Linked DNA regions of Homo sapiens: region 1 is linked to region 2. A link means that fine-mapping ties the variant in region 2 to the expression of a gene that starts in the linked region. Tissue or cell type: follicular helper T cells. Region 2 holds a variant in brackets; the other region holds the start of a gene. All regions are shown on one strand. Distances are from middle to middle.

What was found. PIP is the estimated chance that this variant, and not a neighbour inherited with it, causes the effect.
Region 1: it holds the start of TEDC1, and the variant in region 2 is fine-mapped to the expression of TEDC1 in follicular helper T cells (Schmiedel 2018, PIP 0.95).

What each region holds. Positions count from the first base shown.
Region 1 is chr14:105,488,860-105,493,381 of GRCh38, reverse strand. TEDC1 (tubulin epsilon and delta complex 1) reads right to left here and starts at 2,136. Exons shown (of 9, transcript NM_001367178.1): 1 at 1,860-2,136; 2 at 1,682-1,760; 3 at 1,073-1,275; 4 at 648-803. The coding sequence starts at 2,006. CRIP1 (cysteine rich protein 1) reads right to left here. Exons shown (of 6, transcript NM_001311.5): 6 at 4,435-4,522. RefSeq lists enhancers at 1,313-2,056, 2,231-2,480, 2,057-2,800 and silencers at 1,811-2,180, 2,571-3,200, 3,211-3,260, 3,391-3,520.
Region 2 is chr14:105,051,771-105,057,816 of GRCh38, reverse strand. It overlaps GPR132 (G protein-coupled receptor 132), which reads left to right. Exons shown (of 4, transcript NM_013345.4): 2 at 537-650; 3 at 1,651-2,430; 4 at 5,715-6,046. The coding sequence starts at 2,397. LOC124903398 (a long non-coding RNA gene) reads right to left here. Exons shown (of 2, transcript XR_007064368.1): 2 at 2,040-2,408. Among named protein-coding and RNA genes, the nearest start is that of GPR132, 11 kb to the left of the region's middle. RefSeq lists an enhancer at 1,432-2,207. The variant TTG/G (reference allele first, on the strand shown) is at 2,792.

The DNA of each region.
Region 1 (4,522 bases), 440 kb before region 2:
GTAAGCGGAGCAGCTGGTGCCAAGGCCAGGCCCGACGGGGTGAGAGGTCCCTGGAAAGGCCAGCTGAGCAACAGACCCTCTGCAAGGGTGGGATGGGGGGGTCTCCAAGGAGTCCCGCGCTGGTGGGAGCCCGCCGCTGCCACAGACCCACCTGTCAGCGCTGGCCTCACAGTGGACACACCACTGGGTACCTGTGCCCCTGAGCCAGCCCCTGCCACCTTCAGGACCCCACAGGAGCTGTCCACCCCGCAAGTCAGCCCCCACCAGGATGTGGTGGCAACAGGAGCTGTCTTCCTCCCCCTCCAGTGCCCAGGAGGGAGTGGCTTTCATGGCACAGACCCCATCCCACTGTTCACAGAGCTGGAAGTCCACTGGTAACTTTTGGGAACAGAAAGGCAAATTCTGTGAGCTCTCTGACACCCGTTTCTGCCCACCATTGCCCACCCCACTGGGCTCCCTGCCCAGCCCTGCCCCCTACAAGGACCACCGGGAACCACGGGCTCAGGCTTTGGGTAAGCCAGGGCAGGAAGGCCCACATCCAGCCAAAAGCCTGTGCCAGGCCTCACGGGACGGGCTGCAGGGACTGGCAGCTGGCGGCCTGCAGCACGGGACACAGCCCCTGAGTGGAAGCCCTGTGCCAGCTCTACCTTGCTCAGGAGGGCGCACTGCTCCTGCTGACTGGACACCAGCTGGCGCCACCGGAACCGCAGCTTTCCCATCAGCCACTGCACATGGCGGACATCCACAGGACCCTCTGCTTCCATGTGGGGTGCAGGTGGGCCAGGGCTGGCCAGGGCCTCACACTGGAGAGGGGCAAGGGTCAGGCCCTGCTCCCACCCCACCCTGCCCCCCAGAAAAGGCCAGGATGGAGACGGTAGTGGAGGCACAGCCAAAAACAACGGGTGCTCCCTGCACAGGGAGCCTCCGTGCTTTCAGCTGGGCAGCTGGGTAACCCTTCATGGGACTGCCCTGAGGAGCAAAGCAGACAGAGGGGGCTGACCCAGGCCTGCCCTTGCTCTGGCCCCAGGAGTTGAGACCAGGGCTGGCTCAGCTCACCCTCACCCACACGCACCTGGCACACAGTCATCTCGTCACCCAGAGGCACTCGGGCCTGGGCCAGCATCTGCTCGGGCACAGGTCCTCGGGCCAAGAGCCAGGACAGAGCCAGCAGCAGCTCCCGACTGCCCTGCGAGCCATCCTCAGGTAGTTGTGCCAGTGCCAGCCTCGGGTAGCCCTGGGAGCATAGTGCTGACTTCACCAAGCGGGCTTGGACCTCTAGGACAGAAGACCACCACCTTAGGGGGACCACCCACCTGGAGGTGACACCACCTGGATCCCTCCAGAGACCCCCACAGGTCACTTGAGCAGAAGCTCAAGGCCTAGTTCAGAAGAGATGATAGTGGGAGAGCTAGAACTCAGACCAGGATGAGGAGACCAGGGGCCAACAGGGACGTCCCCAGGGCTTTGTAGGAGCAGAAGCCAGTGCTACCCAAGGGGGTGGAGCTAGGGCCCATCAGGGGGCGTGGCTTACCGGGGAAGGCGGAGTTTTGAGGAGCAAGCGGGGTCAGTGTTGGGTGGGGGCTAGAGCCTGCCGGGGCGGGGCTTACTGGGGAAGGCGGGGCTTTACAGGAGTAGGCGGGGCCAGTGCTACCGGGTGGGCGGGGCCAGGAGCGGGGCTTACCCAGGGCGAGCGATGCCAAGGCGTTGCCCGCAGGGAGTGGCGAGAGCACACGGAAGAGGAGCTGCCAGAGCGCGGAGGTCTGCGGAAAATAAAAAGCGGGCGGTCAGCGGAGCCGGCCCAACTCCCTGCGAGGGCCCGGGACCCCACCCGGCCCGCCTGCCCTCCGCGAGAGCGTCACCGCCTCCGGACGGTCGAACTTGGCGCGGCGGAAGATCTCGGGGCTGGGTCCCGAGGGCAGCGACCGACTCAACGCGGCGATGGCCTCAGGCAGGGCCCCGGCCCGGGCCCCAGCCGCGGGGTCCACCCGCTGCCGCCGCCTCCCCATGCAGCCAGCACCAGCCTCTTTCGGATCGCCCGCCTCCGCCGCGGCCCGGGGCCTGCGTCCAATCACCGCACGGGCCGGGTTTAGTGCGGCGGCTGGGACCTGCGCCCAGTTACCGCTCCGGCTGGAACCTGAGCCCAATCATGGCACGGGCCGGGTCCAGCGCCCAATCACCGCGCCGGCTGGGACCTGCGCCCAATCACCGCGCTGGCCGAGACCTGTACCCAATCACCGCGCTCCCGAGACCTGTACCCAATCACCGCGCTGGCCGGACATGCATCCAATCACTGCGTCGGCAGGGTCCCGCCTTCGTGTCCAAGCCCAATGAACGGTTCCCCTGGAGTTTGAGTGTAGTCTATTCTGTCTCGTGCGGACCCACTTCCGGGCTCCTGGCAGGGCTGTTGATATGGAGAACACCGCAGAGTCCGCCCTTGCAGGCTCAATCGTCACGACACCCGACACCCCGCCTCGCTCAGACCCCACCCATCAGCGCCTCACGCCCCTTGGCAACCTAGCAACCGCCGGGCGGGAGCGCGCAGACTCCGGAAGGCGCCCTGTGGGGCCGCTTACGCAGTCGGAGCGGACGAGCCTCGCCCCATCGCGCCGCCTTCCAGGCTGGGCCGCCAGGAGGCGCCCAGAGCCCGCCGCGCCGCACAGCGCAGACCCCAGCGCGGCCGGCCCCTGGCCCCTGGCGCGAAGTCCCGGGCAGCTCCCCCGCCCCGAACGCGCAGCCGGAGCCCGCGGCAGCCTCCTCAGGCGCTCCCGATCCTCGCCCGCCCGCGGCAGCGCTTCCCTCTGCCGCCGCCACGGAGCAGCCCCGGAGGAAGCCGGCGCATGGAAGCAGCTGCTGCCCGGGCGCCGCTGAGCCGGGCCCGCCTGCACGGGCGGCCCCGAAAGACGCGGGCCGGGAGGAACGTGGGGCTGTCTGCGGGGATGGAAGGTCGGGCTGGCTTCTGGCCAGCGGCGCCTCCGGGCATTCGTGAAGACCCCGGGCAGCGTGTCACCGGGGCTGTTCCCGCGATGCCCCTGCACCTCCCGGGGCTGCGAGGACGGCGGGAGAGGGAAACTCAGTCCTCCCTGGACCCCCAGCCCTGGCTGGACACGCCCACGAGAGGCGCAGCCCGAGGGGTCCCGGCCCCACCTTTCTTCTCGGCCTCCTTCGCCCCCGACCTCCTCTTCCAGGCGGCCCTCCCGGCCCCGCCTCGGGGCCCCCCCCCCAGCAAGCCCCTCCTCTCCCTCCCCGCACGCCCTCCGTCCTTCCCCGCCCGCAGCCTCCTTCCCTCCGGCGCATCGCGATCTCCTTCACGGCGCCAGTAGGAGGACTGCGCTCCTCACCCCGCCCACGCGGGTTTCTTGAAGCTAAGGGGCCTCCTCCTCGGAGCGCCTACTGCACCTGCCGAGCTACAGGGCGGCGGGAGCCAGGGGGATGGGAGCAGGAGGTGGGGAACCGCGGCGCCACAGAACTTGGCAGGAGGCGTGGGGGAGATGGCGGAGCAGCTCTGCGGCCTTGTTCAGCGCTCTCCCAACCCCCGAGCTTGCGGATTTTTCTCTGCACCAGGTGTCGCTGTCTCAAAGATCTCAGTTCCCTCAGCTCCACCCACCACCGTCCAGCCAGAAACCAGCCTCACCTCAGCACCCCCTGCCCCCATCCCATCAAAAGTGCTGTGGCTCCCAGCTCTTGGAATTCCAGGAATCCCCCAATCACCCCCACACACCCCACCCTGCGGGCCACCCTAGACTGCCCCCACAGCACCTGTCGAGCTGAGCCTGCAGCACACCCACCACAGCCCTAAGGCAGGGCCAGACCCCTGGGCTCTTTTAAACCAGTGGGTGTCCGGAGGGGTGGCCTTCTGCCAAGGCCGGTATCTAAGTAGCCAGTGTGGGGAAGAGGGTCTCTGAAGGTGGCCAGTCAGCAGCGGCTGGCTGAGTTGACAAGGGAGTTTCCAGAAGGCCCCCCAGCCCCTGTGCACGGCCGGTACTCAAGTTCCCCACTGGACGCCGGGCCACTGGGTAAGTCCCTGGGCACAGGGTAGATGGCAGATGAGGACGCACATGGGGCAGTGGTGCCTGGGTCAGGGGCAGAGCAGCCTCATCAGGCCCTTGCAGAAGCTGGGCCTGGCCTGGAGGGGTGGGGAATGAGGACAGGGTTGGGGGGTGGAAAGGAGGAAGGCCAGGAGTTCCCATAACTCCCCCAGAGCCTCTCAGAAAGGGAGCCAGCATGAGCTGATTCACCCTCTGACCCGAGGCCAGCCTCGCCCGCCCCCAGGCCTCTCGGCCTGCTGAGCCTTTGGCTGGTGGCCTGCAAAGCCCCCCTTCCCCACTCCCAGAAGGCCAGGAGGGCTCAGAGGCACTTCTGAGGATCTGGGAGTTGTCGAGGCGGACTCAGAGTGCCAGGGCTGGGTGCGGGCTGTCTAGGGTGGCCTGGACTCACCCTGCACAGGGAGCCCTCGCCTATGAGACCCTGGAACGGCCCCCTGGGGAGGGCAATGGGCAGCAGAAGAGCAGGCGCCGGTGGCAGA
Region 2 (6,046 bases):
CTTGGGAGGCTAAGACAGGAGAATCGCTTGAACCCAGGAGGCGGAGGTTGCAGTGAGCCGAGATCATGCCATTGCACTCCAGCCTGGGCAACAGAGTGCGACTCTGTCTCAAAAAAAAAAAAAAAAAAATTAGCTGGGGGTGGTGGCAGGCGACTGTACTCCCAGCTACTCAAGAGGCTGCTGCAGGAGAATAGTTTGAACCCGGGAGGCAGAGGTTGCAGTGAGCCGAGATTGTGCTACTGCACTCCAGCCTGGGCGACAGAGCAAGACTCCATCTCAAGAAAAAAAAAAAAAAAAAAAAAAAAGAATCGTATGTAGTCGCAGTGGCTAATGTGACGTTTTGATGCCTGTTGGCTTGGAGCCTTGCTTGTGTTTCTCATGTGGGATGCAACGGCAGATTCTCAACATTTAAAAAACACCTACGAATCAACGGGCCACTTAGTAAATTAGTAAATACTCACTAGCCGTTTGTCAATGGGTTAACTTGTGACTCAATCTGATTTCCCTAAAACAATTTCAACCTACTCTTTTTCCAGGTCATTTTAAACTCTCAGAGTGAACGTCTTGATAGGACCGACAAGACGCATGACATGTACTTAGAAAGCTTATCTTAGAGCCACACTGAGATTGGAACCCGCAAAATATGCCAGGTGAGAGAGCCTTCTCCGACTTTGAACATGTAAGAGGAAGCCCATGAGAATTTTTCCATGAAGCATGTTGTCTCATAATTCAAAAATTAACGCATAAAAATAGATTATCGAGATAAAAACTAGCTCAGCAATAATAAATCTAGAGGTGCTACATGGAGAAATGAAGGACTGATTTCATAATTCTTTCGTGAAGTTCTGGGAAGCCAGGAACGGGAATGAGGGCATAGTTGGTGGCTCCTGGGAGGGCGACACAGTACTGAGTCAGGGGGCTGTCCCACAGGTCCCAGGGGAGCCCTGCACGGTCTGGGCCATGAGGAGCTGACCACCAGCCCCCCGCATCCATGCGTCTCCTGGTGCCGTTGCCCCTACTTCTGACCCACCAGGAAGGCTCTCTTCCCAGGAGGTCACTTGTGGCAGGAGGCGGGGGAGCGGGGGACAGCCTCCTCACCAGATGGGCACAGAGCCACAGACACCACGGACCTGGTGTCCAGAGGTGAAGGTCCCAAGGCTGCGTGAGGCCTGGAGCAGGGGGTGCGGGACTGAGGGGCACCGAGGCCCTGACTGAGACCGCACGGGCGACGATGTGTGGGGTGGGGGAGCCGTAGGAAGTCGGGGAGGGAACAGACCAGAGCGGCTCTGTGCAGGCTGAGGTGGGAGGGACCCCTCTGGCCACCCCGGGTCTTGCCTGCATCTCCCCTTGTGTTTTGGATTCTGGCTCTGCCTCCCAGGGCCTGTGATTGTCATGAAAGAGACGGGGCCGTGTAGGGGGCCCGAAACTTCCTCTGAGCTCAGGACTCGCACAGCGGGGCTGGGGCACTCGTTTGATGGGAAAAGAGCCATCTGGGTGAAGAACAGTGAGTGCAAACACAGGCGTTGGGCCTCCCACCCGAGAACTGCCTTCACTGCCCCCCGCCGCCCGCCACAGGCCTGTGTCTTGGGCGAAGTGGTGACAACTGAGTGTGAGGCAGCCCAGTCACACCCACTCTCTCCCTCTGCCCAGGGAGGAAGGTGAGCAAGGGACACGACACTCACCCGGAGAAACCCAGCAAGCGCAGCGAGGCTGTGGGGAGACCGGAGCCCTGCACACCGCCGGGGGAAGGTGGGCCAGCGCCACCACCGTGGAGAACAGCGCGGAGGCACCCCACGAGATGAGACGGAACTGCCGTGAGATCCAGCAATGCCAACTGTGGGTCTGACCCAGGAGAACGGAAAGCAGGGACGTGAACAGCCCTCCTCATGTTCTTGACACCGTCATTCTCAGCAGCTCAGCTAAGGCACAGAGGCAGCCGAGCGTCTGTCAGCGGAGTCGTGGCTGAGCAGAACACGCCACACGCCACACGCCACACGCCACACGTGCAGGATTGCTCAAGATGGAAGGGCACAGTGGAATATATATATATATTTATATTTTTGGCGAGACCCTGGAGGACACACTGAATACAATGGAATACCATCCCGCCTTTGAAAGGAAGGGAAATCCTGGCACACGCTGCAACAGGAGGGAGCTTGAGGACACTGTGGTGAGTGGAGCACGTGAGACACGGAAGGACACACGCTGAAGACACGCAGAGATGCCCACCCACGTGGGGAGGTGACAGGGGAGCCCAGCGCACAGAGACAAAGTGGAATGGAGGCCTGGGGGCTGGGAGCAAATGCGGAGCGAGTGCTTCCTGGGGCAGAGTCTCCGTTTGGGAAGATGAGAAGGTTCTGCCGACGGATGCTGGCGATGGTTGCAGAAGAATGTGAATGTGCCCAATGCTACTGAAAAACGGTTACAATGGTAAATTCCTTGTTATGTGTATTTTGCCACAATTTTCCACTTTTTCAATTTTTTTTTCTTGCGATTGAGTCTCACTCTATCGCCCAGGCTGGAGTGCAGTGGCACAATCTCGGCTCACTGCAGCTTCTGCCTCCCAGGTTCAAGGGATTCTCCTGCATCAGCCTCCCAAGTAGCTGGGATTACAGGTGCCCACCACGCCTGGCTAATATTTGTATTTTTAATAGAGATGGGATTTCACCATGTTGGTCAGGCTGGTCTGGAACTCCAGACCTCGGGTGATCCACCTGCCTTGTCCTTCCAAAGCGTTGGGATTGAAGGAATGAACGGCCCATGGGGCCGAATTTTTTTTTTTTTTTTTTTT[TTG/G]AGATGGAGTCTTGCTCTGTTGCCCTGGCTGGAGTGCAGTGGCGCAATCTCTGCCTTCCGGGTTCACACCATTCTCCTGCCTCAGCCTCCCAAGTAGCTGGGACTGCAGGCACCTGCCACCACGCCTGTCTAATTTTTGTATTTTTAGTAGAGACGAGTTTTCACCAGGTTAGCCAGGCTGGTCTCGAACGCCTGACCTCTAGTGATCTCCCCACCCTGGCCTCCCAAAGTGCTGGGATTACAGGCGTGAGCCACTGCGCCCAGCTGAATTTTTTAAATGCACAAAAACAAGTGGCCTGGCATGGTGGCTCACACCTGTAATCCCAGCACTTTGGGAGGCCAAGGTGGGCAGATCACCCAAGGTCAGGAGTTCAAGACCAGCCTGGCCAACCTGGTGAAACCTTGTCTCTACTAAAACTACAAAAATTAGATGGGCGTGGTGGCGAGTGCCTGTAGTCCCAGCTACTCGGGAGGCTGAGGCAGGAGAATCACTTGAACTTGGGAGGCAGAGGTTGCAGTAGCAGAGATCACGCCACTGCACTCCAGCCTGGGCATCAACACAGTTTTTTGAGACTACGTCTCAAAAAAAAAAAAAAGAAAAAAAAAGAGCGACACAATGGGGCCGCAGGGCTGACCCCGTTCGGGGTGACTTGCCCCATCGTGCTGGAGGTCAACAGGCCCTCAAGTACAGGAGGGAGGTCAAGGAAACTACGACATTTGCATGTGGAAGGTTCCTGAGGCCAGCGGGCTGGACAGTGCCCAGGGACCCCTGACCTCGCGCCAGGGCACAGCTGAAGTTTGCCCCGCCCGGGGCTGCTGTGGCCCAATAAGTTTGGCAACGCTCTGTCCGTCCGTCAGGTGCTGAGGCCAGGTCTGTCTGCGGCTTCCTGCTGACCTGGAGGTGGGACTCCATGATCTGTAACCACAGAAGGCCCAGAAGCATGAACTCAGCCAGAGTGGGCAGCCAGGACACTGGAGCTGGTGGCGCTGGCAGAGCTTGGGGAAGTCACACCACTGCACACCCTGCGTGACCTCTAGCAACCCCCTGGCTGGAAAGGATGAGTTTCTGACCTCGGAGAGCTGTGTTTGAGGCAGGTTGCTGAGATCACTTTGATCTCCTTTTCTTTTGCCCTCTCCCACATTTAAGGACTTTTGTGATTCCATTGGGCCCACCAGATAGTCCAGAATAATCTCTTTATTTTACTGTCAGCTAGTTAGCAACCTTCATTCAACTTGCAACCTTAGTTCCCCTTTCCCGTGTAACCTGCCATATCTACATGTCCCAAGGATTAGGATTCAGACATCTTTTGGGTGGGGTCATTAGTCTCCTGCCACCGAGAGGAGGGGTATCACATGACATAGTAATAAGAGGATCAATTCACCAAGAAGACAGAACCATCTGTGACTCCTATGCCCCAATTCACAGTAGCTTCAAATACGTAAAGCAAGCACTGGGAGAATACAAGGAGAGGTGGACAAATCCACCACTCCCACAGGAGCTTATAATTATCTTTTTTAGTAATTGATAGTTCACACAGGCAAATATGTGGTAAGACTACAGATTAGCCGGGCGCAGTGGCTCACGCCTGTAATCCCAGCACTTTGGGAGGCCAAGGAGGGCAGATCACCTGAGGTCGGGAGTTCAAGATAAGCCTGACCAACATGGAGAAACCCCATCTCTACTAAAAATACAAAATTAGCTGGGTGTGGTGACGCATGCCTGTAATGCCAGCTACTCAGGAGGCTGAGGCAGGAGAATCCCTTGAATCCGGGAGGCAGAGGTTGCAGTGAGCTGAGATCGTGCCACTGCACTCCAGCCTGGGCAACAGAGCAGAGGGAGAGACTCCATCTCCAAAAAAAAAAAAAAAAAAAAAAAGACTACAGGTTAGGAATTAGGATGAGGCAGTGCCCAGCTATGGGGCCAGGTGGGAAGTGGAGGCAAAGTGGGTCAGCGCTGGAAGGGCATAGTAGCAGCGCCTAACAGACTGCTTAGAAAAGCACTCACACAGCAATTACAGGATCAACATTCTTTTCAAACACACAAGCAACTTTTTTTTTTTTTTTGAGAAGGAGTCTCACTCTTGTTGCCCAGGCTGGAGTACAGCGGCACGATCTCAGCTCACTGCAACCTCCGCCTCCTGGGTTCAAGTGATTCTCCTGCCTCAGCCTCCAGAGTAGCTGGGATTACAGGTGCGAGCCAGCACGCCCAACTATTTGTTTTAAATTTTTAGTAGAGACAGGGTTTCTCCATGTTGGCCAGGCTGGTCTCAAACGCCTGACCTCAAGTGATCTGCCTGCCTCAGCCTCCCAAAATGCTGGGATTACAGGTGTGAGCCACCATGCCGGGCCAGAAGCAACATTTTTGAAAACCTCAGTGAGTTACAAAGACTCAGCATTGCCCAGACACAATGGCTCACGCCTGTAATCCCAGCACTTTGGGAAGCTGATGCAGGCGGATCACCTGAGATCAGGAATTCGAGACCAGCCTGGCCAACATGGTGAAACCCCGTCTCTACTAAAATACAAAAATTAGCCAGGCATGGTGGCACGTGCCTGTAATCCTGGCTACTTGGGAGGCTGAGGCAGGAGAATTGCCTGAACCCAGGAGGCAGAGGTTGCAGTGAGCCGAGGTTGTGCCACTGCACTCCAACCTGGGCCACAAGAGCAAAACTCCATTTCAAAAAAAAGAAAAAAGAAAAATGATTCAGTATTGCCCAGCCTGCATTCTTTGTCCATGACGCTGCTAGGTTGGAGATCCACTATCTAATAATTGCTCTAAAAAATCAATTTGGAAATGTTTTAAACACCTGCGTGTGTCTAGTCTGAGCTACCACAAAGCTTCTATCCTTTCTTCCCACAGTAGAGTCTCTCCCAGGTGGTTTCCAGGGACTCCCGTCCTCACTCTTGTCTCTGTCCCACAGGAAACGCCACCCCAGTGACCACCACTGCCCCGTGGGCCTCCCTGGGCCTCTCCGCCAAGACCTGCAACAACGTGTCCTTCGAAGAGAGCAGGATAGTCCTGGTCGTGGTGTACAGCGCGGTGTGCACGCTGGGGGTGCCGGCCAACTGCCTGACTGCGTGGCTGGCGCTGCTGCAGGTACTGCAGGGCAACGTGCTGGCCGTCTACCTGCTCTGCCTGGCACTCTGCGAGCTGCTGTACACAGGCACGCTGCCACTCTGGGTCATCTATATCCGCAACCAGCACCGCTGGACCCTAGGCCTGCTGGCCTGCAAGGTGACCGCCTACATCTTC